Regions from separate parts of the Homo sapiens genome. Here region 2 is linked to region 1. Evidence: fine-mapped expression QTL. A gene starts in region 1. The other region holds a variant in brackets. All regions are shown on one strand. Distances are from middle to middle.

What was found. PIP is the estimated chance that this variant, and not a neighbour inherited with it, causes the effect.
Region 2: its variant is the best candidate, but not a certain one, in a credible set for the expression of ZFAND2A in CD8 T cells (CEDAR, PIP 0.57).

What each region holds. Positions count from the first base shown.
Region 1 is chr7:1,157,630-1,162,801 of GRCh38, forward strand. ZFAND2A (zinc finger AN1-type containing 2A) reads right to left here and starts at 2,567. Exons shown (of 5, transcript NM_182491.4): 1 at 2,335-2,567; 2 at 529-628; 3 at 27-121. The coding sequence starts at 583. ZFAND2A-DT (ZFAND2A divergent transcript) reads left to right here and starts at 2,745. Exons shown (of 3, transcript NR_110069.1): 1 at 2,745-2,994; 2 at 4,723-4,914. RefSeq lists enhancers at 1,669-2,183, 2,184-2,696, 2,697-3,210, 3,211-3,723 and silencers at 2,506-3,045, 3,056-3,105.
Region 2 is chr7:1,183,717-1,189,228 of GRCh38, forward strand. No RefSeq gene overlaps it. Among named protein-coding and RNA genes, the nearest start is that of ZFAND2A-DT, 26 kb to the left of the region's middle. The variant G/A (reference allele first, on the strand shown) is at 3,386.

The sequences.
Region 1 (5,172 bases):
AATCTTTTGAACAAAGGATCAATTACCTTCTGGAATGCAAACGGACACTTATGTGCAGCGTATGGAAAATGATCTTTACAGAAATCTTGTTTACATGCATCACATTTTACTGGAAGAAAATCTAAAAAACAAAAAACAGGGAAGTGTTTTAACGACTGGAACAAAATACTTCCAGATAGTACTATCAAAGTGTTTACCTACACTAAGTGTTTTAGGCCTATGAGATGGACAGGTCCTCGAGGGCCACACATGTGAAAACAATCCCAGGGTCAGGCTGTCTTCTAGAGACCCCCTATGGCATCGCAAGTATTCCAGCAGCCCCCTGGATCCACCTGGCCCTGCTAGCCAGCCTGCACTCCTGCACCCAGCCTCTGGTGGATGCTAAGTGTCAAACAGAACCTGCACCAGCACAGTTCCCAATACTGAGGAGCCAGGAAGGCCAAGACACAATTATCAGCTAATTAACAGAACAGCCAGCTTTCCCCCAACAAAATACCATTTTCTATTAAGTCTCTTAAAAGTACTCACCTAGCTGCTTGCAAGTCTTTTCTGAACAATGCTTCCCCAAATCAGGAAACTCCATTATGAGAACAGTGCTCAAAACGCAGATGGCGGAGTTAAGTGTCACCTACAAGAGAATCAGAATAGTTAGGAGGAAAGCTGGACTGCCCTTCAGTCACCAGGATTTACAATGTAATTACAGCTAATGAAAGTCAACAAACGCACTGTGTGGGGAGCATTCCATGGAGTTTTAGTACAAATACCAGGTGTCCGCCATTCGTAGTCAACCCCATTAAGAGACACGGACTCCTTCACAGGCCTTTTAATTCCTAGTCTATGAAGCACTCCTTGAACTCGGGTTTCTATTTAAACTCACACTGAGGGGGCGAGAGCTAATTCACACAGCTGCCAGTGATGATTACGACTTTGGTGAATTTTAAGTCACAATTTTATCCATGGAATATACTTGTTCACATAAACAAAACTCTGTTACTAGGTGCTAAATCACATCAGTTGACTCCATTATCCAGAGAAGATTTAACTCTGTCCCTCGCCTCTCTCTTCAACTCCCTTAGGCATTGAATCTTACTGTGAACTTATTCCTCGATGACATCAACCTGGAGTTGATCAGGGAGAAGCGCAAGCTGTTAAGTCACTATGGAAAACAGGCAGACAGCTGGTGAAACTACCGCACTCGAGAGAGAATCAAGGGGCTCACGAGGTCCCCTCCATGATCTAGTACCCACCAGCCCTCCCGGGGCCTTTTCCTGGGGCTCACGAGGTCCCGTCATCTAGTACTCACCAGCCCCTCCCGGGGCCTTTTCCTGACCTTCCCATCAGCTCTCTCCCCACTCCTGGAGGCCTCCTAGACTGTCGCCTAAGACTGGAACACTCTCGCCCATGGCAAACGTCTAGTTATCCCCTCCCGCCTCAGTTTAAAGCCATTCCCACCCTCCCCAGTTCCCTCTATGTTACACGCCCGCTACTTAAGGTGCCCATTAGTCCTTTCCCAGCCCTCCTTCGCCCACAGCTTCCAACTACAGATCCGCTGCTTTACTATTAGCTCCCGGTGCCCGACACACAGCAGGCGTTCCGAAATTGTTTTGTTCAAGGAATTCACAAGAGTTTGATGTGAATCCCCAAATGATTTTGTTCTGGACGCACAGCACCCGTCCTAGGAAACCAACACCCTACCCTGGCGGGCCGGGCCCGCAGCAAGAAAACACACATCTACGTGGCTGTCACTCGGCTGGCGGGTTAACGACCCCGTGCGACCCGGTACTACGGCCCCGATGGCAGGCCCGGCCCCCAGCAGACAGCCGGACTCCCAGCAGACAGGCCGGACCCCCAGCAGCCAGACCCCGGCAGGCCCGGTCCCCAGCAGACAGCCGGACCCCCAACAGCCAGACCCCGGCAGGCCCGGTCCCCAGCAGACAGGCCGGACCCCCAACAGCCAGACCCCGGCAGGCCCGGTCCCCAGCAGACAGGCCGGACCCCCAGCAGCCAGACCCCGGCAGGCCCGGTCCCCAGCAGACAGGCCGGACCCCCAGCAGCCAGACCCCGGCAGGCCCGGTCCCCAGCAGACAGCCGGACCCCCAACAGCCAGACCCCGGCAGGCCCGGTCCCCAGCAGACAGGCCGGACCCCCAGCAGCCAGACCCCGGCAGGCCCGGTCCCCAGCAGACAGGCCGGACCCCCAGCAGCCTGACCTCCAGCAAGCAGCCGGACTTTCAGCAGCCGCACTCCTAGCAGACAGGCCGAACCCCCGAGCAACCTGACCTCAAGGCAGGCCCGACCCCCGGCAGACCCTGTCTGCGCAATCCCGGCCCCGTACCTGGCTCTCGTCGGGGACCCAGGCAGCTGAGGTGAGCAGCAGATGGAAGAGACGTAAACTCAGGTGTCCTCCTCCGTAGTCGGCTCCGGGTAGCTAAGCAGAAAGAACCTCGACACTGGCACCGAGACGCCGTCGGAGGCACACCCACACCCACACCGGAACGCAACATCTCGCTGCCCGCGGCCTACGGGGATTTATCCGCAGCCCCCGGATCTGAGAGCCGTCTGGGCCTTGGGGTTTCCGGGCGCGCCCCGACAACGTCACCCGCAGACCGGCCAATCCCGCCAGGCCGCGGCCCAGTGGCGCCGGCGCACACCGAAGACGACACCAGCCATCCGGCCAATCCCGCCCCGCCGCGCCCCGCAGGCCCGCCCACTCCTCGCTTCTCCACTTCCCTTCTCGAAGTGTCCGGTCGCTTCTCGCAGGCGGCGCGCTTGCTGGGTCACAGTGAGGCGGCTCCGCGCAGGCGCAGCCGGGCGGGCGAGGAGCGGGGAAGCTGACTCAGGGCTGCGGCCGGGGTCCTGCGGGGTAGGAGCGCGAGGCCGGCCTGAGGGAGGAGGCCTAGCGACCCATCCGGCGCCTCCCGCCCCGGGCACCCGCCCGCGGCCGCGCATCCTGCGGGCCCCAGGAGGCCTCCATCTCAAAACAACGTGTTTTTAGGTAATTTCAAACTTAGGGAAAAGCTTCAAGAATAATACCGAAAATGTCAGTGTCCCCAGCACCTAGATCCCCCAGTTAAATCCTTTTCCATTTCACCGCGCTGCCCCCCGCCCCCTGGACGGTTATGTGGCCGCGTGGGGTTGGCTCTGCCCAGGGCCGCGGTCACTGCACAGAACGCCCTGCACGTAAGGGGCTCCGCCTGGGTAAGACCCCGCCCAGCTGGGCAGGAGGAGGGCGTGGGCCCAGGACATGGAGACCAGCCTGGGCAACATAGCGAGACCCCATCTCTGCAGAAATAAAATATTAGCCGGACGGTGCACGGTGGCTCAGGCCTGTAATCCCGGCACTTTGGGAGGCCGAGGTGGGAGGATGGCCTGAGGTTAGTGTCTCACATGTCTGTGTGAAGAGACCACCAAACAGGCTTTGTGTGAGCAACAAGGCTGTTTATTTCACCCGGGTGCAGCCCGGCTGAGTCGGAAAAGAGAGTCAGCAAAGGGCGATGGGATTATCATTAGTTCTTACAGGTTTTGGGATAGACGGTGGAGTTAGGAGCAATGTTTTGCAGGCAGGTGGTGGATCTCATAAGGTACATTCTCAAGGGTGGGGAGAATTACAAAGAACCTTCTTAAGGGTAGAGGAGATTACAAAGTACATTGATCAGTTAGGATGGGGCAGAAACAAATTACAAGGGTGGAATGTCATCAGTTAAGGCTGTTTTCACTTCTTTTGTGGATCTTCAGTTGCTTCAGGCCATCTGGATGTATACATGCAGGTCACTGGGGATATGATGGCTTAGCTTGGGCTCAGAGGCCTGACAGGAGTTCAAGACCAGCCTGGTGAACATGACGAAACCCTGTCTCTACAAAAATAAGAAATGAACGCAGCATGGTGGCATGCACCTGCAGTCCCAGCCTCTTGGGAGGTGGAGGCATAAGTCAGCTGTGAATGCGCCCTGCACTAGAGCCTGGGCAGCAGAGCAGACCCTTCCTCAAACCCAAAAAGCGTCGTGCCAACCAGACCAGATGGTCGCCTAATCAATAGAGACCATGCCCAATCAGGTAAGGACAGACACAACCAGGCATGCTTTTTCTTGTTTTGTTTTTTGTTTGTTGTTTTGAGATGGAGTTTCACTCTTGTTGCCCAGGCTGGAGTGCAGTGGTGTGATCTCGGCTCACCGGAACCACCACCTCCTGGGTTCAAGCGATTCTCCTGCCTCAGTCTCCCAAGTAGCTGGGATTACAGGCATGCACCACCAGGCCCGGCTAATTTTGTATTTTTAGTAGAGACGGGGGTTTCTCCATATTGGTCAGGCTGGTCTCAAACTCCCAACCTCAGGTGATCTGCCTGCCTCGGCCTCCCAAAGTACTGGCATTACAGGCGTGAGCCACTGCGCCCAGCTTGTTGTTTTTCTTTAGACAGTGTCTTCCTCTGTGGCTCAGGCTGAAGGGCACTGGGATGATCACAGCTCACTGCAGCCTCCACCTCCCAGGCTCAAGCCATCCTTCTTCCTCAGGCTCCTGAGTAGCGGGAGCTACAGGCATGCGCCATCATGCCTGGCTAATTTTTGTATTTTTTGTAGATACGGGGTTTTGCTATGTAGCCCAGGCTGGTCTTGAACTCCTGACCTCAGGTGATCCCTCTGCCTCAGCTTCCCAAAGCGCTGGGATTACAGAACATGAGCCACTGTGCCCGGCTTATTGTACAGTCTTTACTCTCGGTTTTCACCAGAGAACTCAAGGGCTGTGAAAAGAGCAGGACCTCACCAGCTGCACGGCGGTGGTGACTGGCTCCATCTTGCTGTCCCTCCCAATCACACAACATCTCCCCTTGAAGGCTCTGCCCAGGCCCGGACTCCCACCTTTCAAGATGTCTGGATCAGTGCAGGACCTCCTCCTTGGCCACATCGCTCTCCTTGGACTGGTTCGTTAACCCTGTTTTACCCACATTTTCTTTTTTTTTCTTTTTCTTTTTTTTTTTTTTTCTGAGACAGAGTTTCATTCTTGTTGCCCAGGCTGGAGTGCAATGACTCGGTCTCGGCTCATTGCAACCTCCGCCTTGCAGGTTCAAGTGATTCTCCCACCTCAGCCTCCCAAGTAGGATTACAGGTACACACCACCACGCACAGCTAATTGTTTTGTATTTTAGGAAGAGATGGGGTTTCATCATGTTAGCCAGGCT
Region 2 (5,512 bases), 26 kb after region 1:
CCTGAGTCCAGCTCAGCTGGGCCCATGGGAGGCACAAGGACTTTACCTCCGTTCAGGGTGTGGAGTGCCTGCCTTTCCTGGCGATATTGCAAAGCCCAGAGTCAGGCTTTTTTTTTTTTTTTTTTTGAGACAGAGTCTCACTCTGTCGCCCAGGCTGGAGTGCAGTAGCACGATCTCGGCTCACTGCAACCTCCGCCTCCCAGGTTCAAATGACTCTCCTGCCTCAGCCTCCCGAGTAGCTGGGATTACAGGTGCCCGCCACCACGCCCGGCTAATTTAGTATTTTTAGTAGAGACAGGGTTTTGCCATGTTGGCCAGGCTGGTCTCGAACTCCTGGGCTCAATTGATCCTCCTGCCTCGGCCTCCCTAAGTGTTGGAATTGCAGGTGTGAGCCACCACACCTGGCATCATTCCTTTTTTTTCAGACGGAGTCTCGCTCTGTCACCCAGGCTGGAGTGCAGTGGCACGACCTCGGCTCACTGCAAGCTCTGCCTCCCAGGTTCACACCATTCTCCTGCCTCAGCCTCCCAAGTAGCTGGGACTACAGGCACCCACAACCACGCCCAGCTAATTTTTTTTTTTTTTTTGTATTTTTAGTAGAGACGGGGTTTCACCGTGTTAGCCAGGATGGTCTCGATCTCCTGACCTGGTGATCCACCCGCCTCGGCCTCCCAAAGTGCTGGGATTACAGGCGTAAGCCACCGTGCCCAGACTAATTTTTTCTATTTTTAGTAGACACGGGCTTTTGCCATGTTGGCCAGGCTGGTCTCGAACTCCTGACCTCAGGTGACCCACCTGCCTTGCCCTCCCAAAGTGCTGGGATGACAGGCGTGAGCCGCCGCACCCGGCCTCGGGTTCTGTGAGGTTCATCTGTGTGGCCATGTGCAGCAGTTTTCCTTGCTTCCTTATCGTGTAGTATTCCATGATGAGTGCATTTCACACCCACCCGTTCTGTGATGGGCATCTGGGCTGCTTCCTTGGTTTTTTGGTTTGTCTTTTATTTTTTCCCCTAGAGACAAGGTCTCACTCTGTCACCCAGGCTGGAGTGCAGTGGTGCAATCATAGCTCACTGCAGTCTCGACCTCCTGGGCTCAAGCGATCCTCCCACCTCAGCCTGCTGAGTAGCTGGGACCACAGGTGCCCACCACCATGCCTGGCTAACAACTTCGGGAGGCCAAGGCAGGTGGATCACCTGAGGTCAGGAGTTTGAGACCAGCCTGGCCAACATGGCAAACCCCATCTCTACTAAAAATACAAAAATTAGCCAGGTGGGGTGGCGGGCACCTGCAGCTACTCTCAGGAGGCTGAGGCAGGAGAACTGCCTGAACCCAGGAGGCAGAGGTTGTAGTGAGCCAAGATCATGCCACTTTGCTCTCCAGCCTGGGTGACAGAGCGAGACTCCGTCTCAAAAAAAAAAAAAAATTATTTTTTTGCAGCAATGGAGTCTCACTATATTGCCCAGTCTGGCGGATGCTTCCATTTTTTGACTGTTATGAATATCATGCTCTGACCAGCGCTGTTTCTGGGTGGCCACAGGCACCCCCTTCTGTTGGGCACCTGCCCAGGCGTGGAACTGGAGTCTGACATTCACGTGTTCCTGGTTCAGCAACATGCACTGAGAATGTGCCACACACGCGGCCAGCCCTGTCCCAGGGACAGAGCTGGGAACTTCTTTTCCAGCTGCCATTGAAATGGCTGGTGAGGACTGTGGCCTCAGGAGTCAACGCCTCGCTGTGCACCTCTCCCCTGCCTCGGTCTCCCGACCTGCCATGCCCTGAAAGGATGGCGCCTCTCAGCGTGGCGACGCGGACCGAGCTGTCTCCATGGTCATGCTGTGGCCCCGACACCCACGGCCCCTCCGTGGACTTTCCCTGCCGCCTTTTCCGTCCACCCTCCCCCTCCGTGGAGGACTTTCCTTGCCGCCTTTTCTGTCCACCCTCAGCCCCCAGCAGGGAAGACTGGCTGAGCACTGGGTGTCCACAGGCTGTATGTGGACAGGGTCTACAGGGCCCCCGCCAGGTGCAGCAGAGGCAGTTAGATTGTCAGTCCCGGGGTCCATAGTGGTCCGAGCCAGGCAGCAGGATCTGAGGAGAAGCTTCAGGCAGACGGGGGCAGGCACAAGCTGATGTTATCATTGCAACGGGGAAACCGAGTGAAGAGCTGCTGGGGAGTTCAGAGGCCCCCAGGAGTGCCGGTCTCGACCCAGCACCTGCTCCCCACGGGGGCCCTGCAGCCAATCGCCCTACCCGAGCCCCCCGCCTTGCCATGGAAAGTGTTTAATGAACGAGGCCAGGCATAGTGGCTCATGCCTGTAATCCCAGCTGCTTGGGAGGCCGAGGTGGGCGGATCACCTGAGGTCAGGGGTTCGAGACGAGCCTGGGCAACATGGCAAAACCCCATCTCTACTAAAAACGGAAAAATTAGCTGGGCATGGTGGTGTGCGCCTGTAGTCCCAGCTACTTGGGAGACTGAGGTGGGAGGATCCCATGAACTCAGGAGGTCAAAGCTGCAGTGAGCTATGATTAAACCCTGAGCTCCAGTCTGGGTGACAGAGCGAGACCTGTCTGGAAAAAAACAAAACAAAACAGAAAAGAAAGTGTTGAGTGAAAACGTCTTCAGGTGCCTTTCACCTTGAGAGAGGGCACGAGGCTGAGGGCGCCTTCCCGTCCTCCGAAGCCTCCATCCCTCCCCTGGCATTTTGCCTTTCACACTGTAATTTCTTTCTTGAGAATCAGCCGACCGAAATTAAGTCTCCCAAATTCCTGAGTAAGCCGAAAAGCTATTTTTCTTGCAAATCTTAGATGAACATAATTTAATATAAGGCATAAACTAATGCAATAAAGACCATATATTACAGCAGTGGCACAATTAAAAAGCAAAAGCCGACGGAAGAGACTGACAGACAGCGTGTTAACCACAGGGAAAATAAAATAGAAATAAGAGGTAGGTTATATTCTGTGCATAAATAACTTTAAAGAGGAACAATAAATGACTTCTATAACTTTTAATATATGTGTTGGAGATTATTTAATTGCAGTGAAGTAAGAAGTGATAAATTGAGCTGAAATTTTACATGATCGGGATTAAGTTAGTTCCTGGCCAGGCACAGTGGCTCACGCCTGTCATCCCAGCACTTTGGGAGGCTGAGGCGGGAGGATCACCTGAGGTCGGGAGTTTGAAACCAGCCTGGCCAACATGGTGAAACTCCGTCTCTACTAAAAATACAAAAATTAGCCGAGTGTGGTGGCGGGCGCCTGTAGTTCCAGCTACTCAGGAGGCTGAGGCAGGAGAATGGCAGGAACCCGGGAGGCGGAGCTTGCAGTGATCCGAGATCGTGCCACTGCCCTCCAGCCTGGGCGACAGAGCGAGACTCTGTCTCAAAAAA[G/A]AAAAAAAAAAAAAGTCGGGGGGGAGATTAAGTTAGTTCCTTAAAAAAGAGACAAGCAAGTAGAATTTTTAGGCACATTTGAGACTCTGGAGATATGCGAGAATGTGTTTTTGTTTGAGTGCCGCAGACCCCAGCAGGGCGAATCCCCCTTCATCTGAAAAGTGCACGTGGTCTTTAAAACTGTTCTTGTCTTTTGAAATCTCTTCAGGTGGAATCTGTTTAGCAAGAAGGAGGAAGGGATGTTGACACACACAACGTGGGTTAATCTACAGAGAATTGTGCTGGATGAGAAGAAGTCAGTCCCAGAGGCTGTGACCCACATGGTTTCATGCCTACGATATTCCTGAAATGACAGCTGTGTAGAAATATAGGTTACGGGCAGCGCGGGGGCTTACGTGTGTAATCCCAGCACTTTGGGAGGCCGAGGCGGGTGGATCACGAGGTCAGGAGTTCGAGACCAGCCTGGCCAACATGGTAAAATCCTGTCTCTACTAAAAACACAAAGAAATTAGCCAGGCGTGGTGGTGGGCACCTGTAATCCCAGCTACTTGGGAAGCTGAAGCAGGAGAATCACTTGAATCTGAGAGGCGGAGGTCACAGTGAGCCAAGATCTCGTCGCTACTGGACTCCAGCCTGGGTGACAGAGTGAGATTCCATCCCCCTGCACCAAAAAAAGAAGTCTGTCTCTATCTTCTCTTTTTGTTTTTTTGTTTGTTTTTTGTTTTTTGTTTTGAGACAGAGTTTCACTCTGTCACCCAGGCTGGAGTGCAGTGGCACAATCTTGGCTTACAGCAAACTCCGCCCCCTCGGTTCAAGCAATTCTCTGCTTCAGCCTCCTGAGTAGCTCGGATTACAGGCGTGTGCCACCACACGTGGCTAATTTTTGTATTTTTAGTAGAGATGAGGTTTCACCATCTTGGCCAGGCTGGTCTTGAACTCCTGATCTCATGATCCACCTGCCTCAGCCTCCCAAAGTGCTGGGATTACAGGTGTGAGCCACCGCGCCCGGCCTCTATCTTCTCTTTTGAGAAGTTTTGAATTTGAATTATTGAGTCTTTGAGTCTGTTTTTGTTTTTGTTTTTCTAGACAGGGTCTTGCTCTGTTGCCCAGGCTAGAGTGCAGTGCAATCGTATTAATAGCTCACTGCAGCCTCGACCTCCAGAGTTCAGGCAATCCTCCCACCTCAGCCTCCTGAGTAGCTGGAACCACAGGCGTGAGCCACCATGCCCAGCGAATTTTTAAATTTTTTGTAGAGTGGGGGCGGTGGGGGGGGGTCTCTATGTTTCCCAGGCTGGTCTTGAACTCCTGGCTCAAGGGATCCTTCTGTATTGGCCTCACAAAGTGCGGGGGTTACAGGCATGAGCACTGCTCCTGGCCTGCCCAGGCTTCTGGGAGTGCCAGAGGCACCTTTTTTCTCTGGCAAAAACTCTAGCTTACTTCTCTTTGACCAAAAAGAAAGAAGCAGGCATCTCACCACATTCTGTACATTAAGATGATTAATCTACCATGACTTTTTAGTCTAAAATGATGGCATTGCTTCCCATAAACCTAACCCTAACCCTAACCCTAAACCTAACCCTCCTCCTGCCAAGGCAGGAGAGTTGCCTGAGCCCAGGAGTTTAAGACTGGCCTGGGCAACATAGGAAGACTCCATCTCTACAAATAATAGGAAGAAGAAGAAGAAGAAGGAGAAGGGGAAGAAGGAGAAGGGGAAGAGGAAGAGGAAGAAGAAGAGGAAGAGGAAGAAGAGGAAGAGGAGGAAGAGGAAGACGAAGAAGAGGAAGAGGAGGAAGAGGAAGAGAAAGAGGAAGAAGAGGAAGAGGAAGAAGAGGAGGAGGAAGAAGAGGAAGAGGAGGAAGAGAAAGAGGAAGAGGAAGAAGAGGAAGAGGAGGAGGAGGAAGAGGAAGAGGAGGAAGAGGAAGAGAAGGAAGAGGAAGAGGAGGAAGAGGAAGAAGAGGAAAAGGAAGAAGAGGAAGAGGAGGAGGAGGAAGAGGAGGAGGAAGAGAAGGAGGAAGAAGAGGAGGAGGAGGAGGAAGAGGAAGAAGAAGAAGAAGGCGGGCAAGGCCTCCTTAGTCTGTGACCCCACCTCCTCCACTGTCCGTGGCGCACCTGGCTAGACGGGCTGTC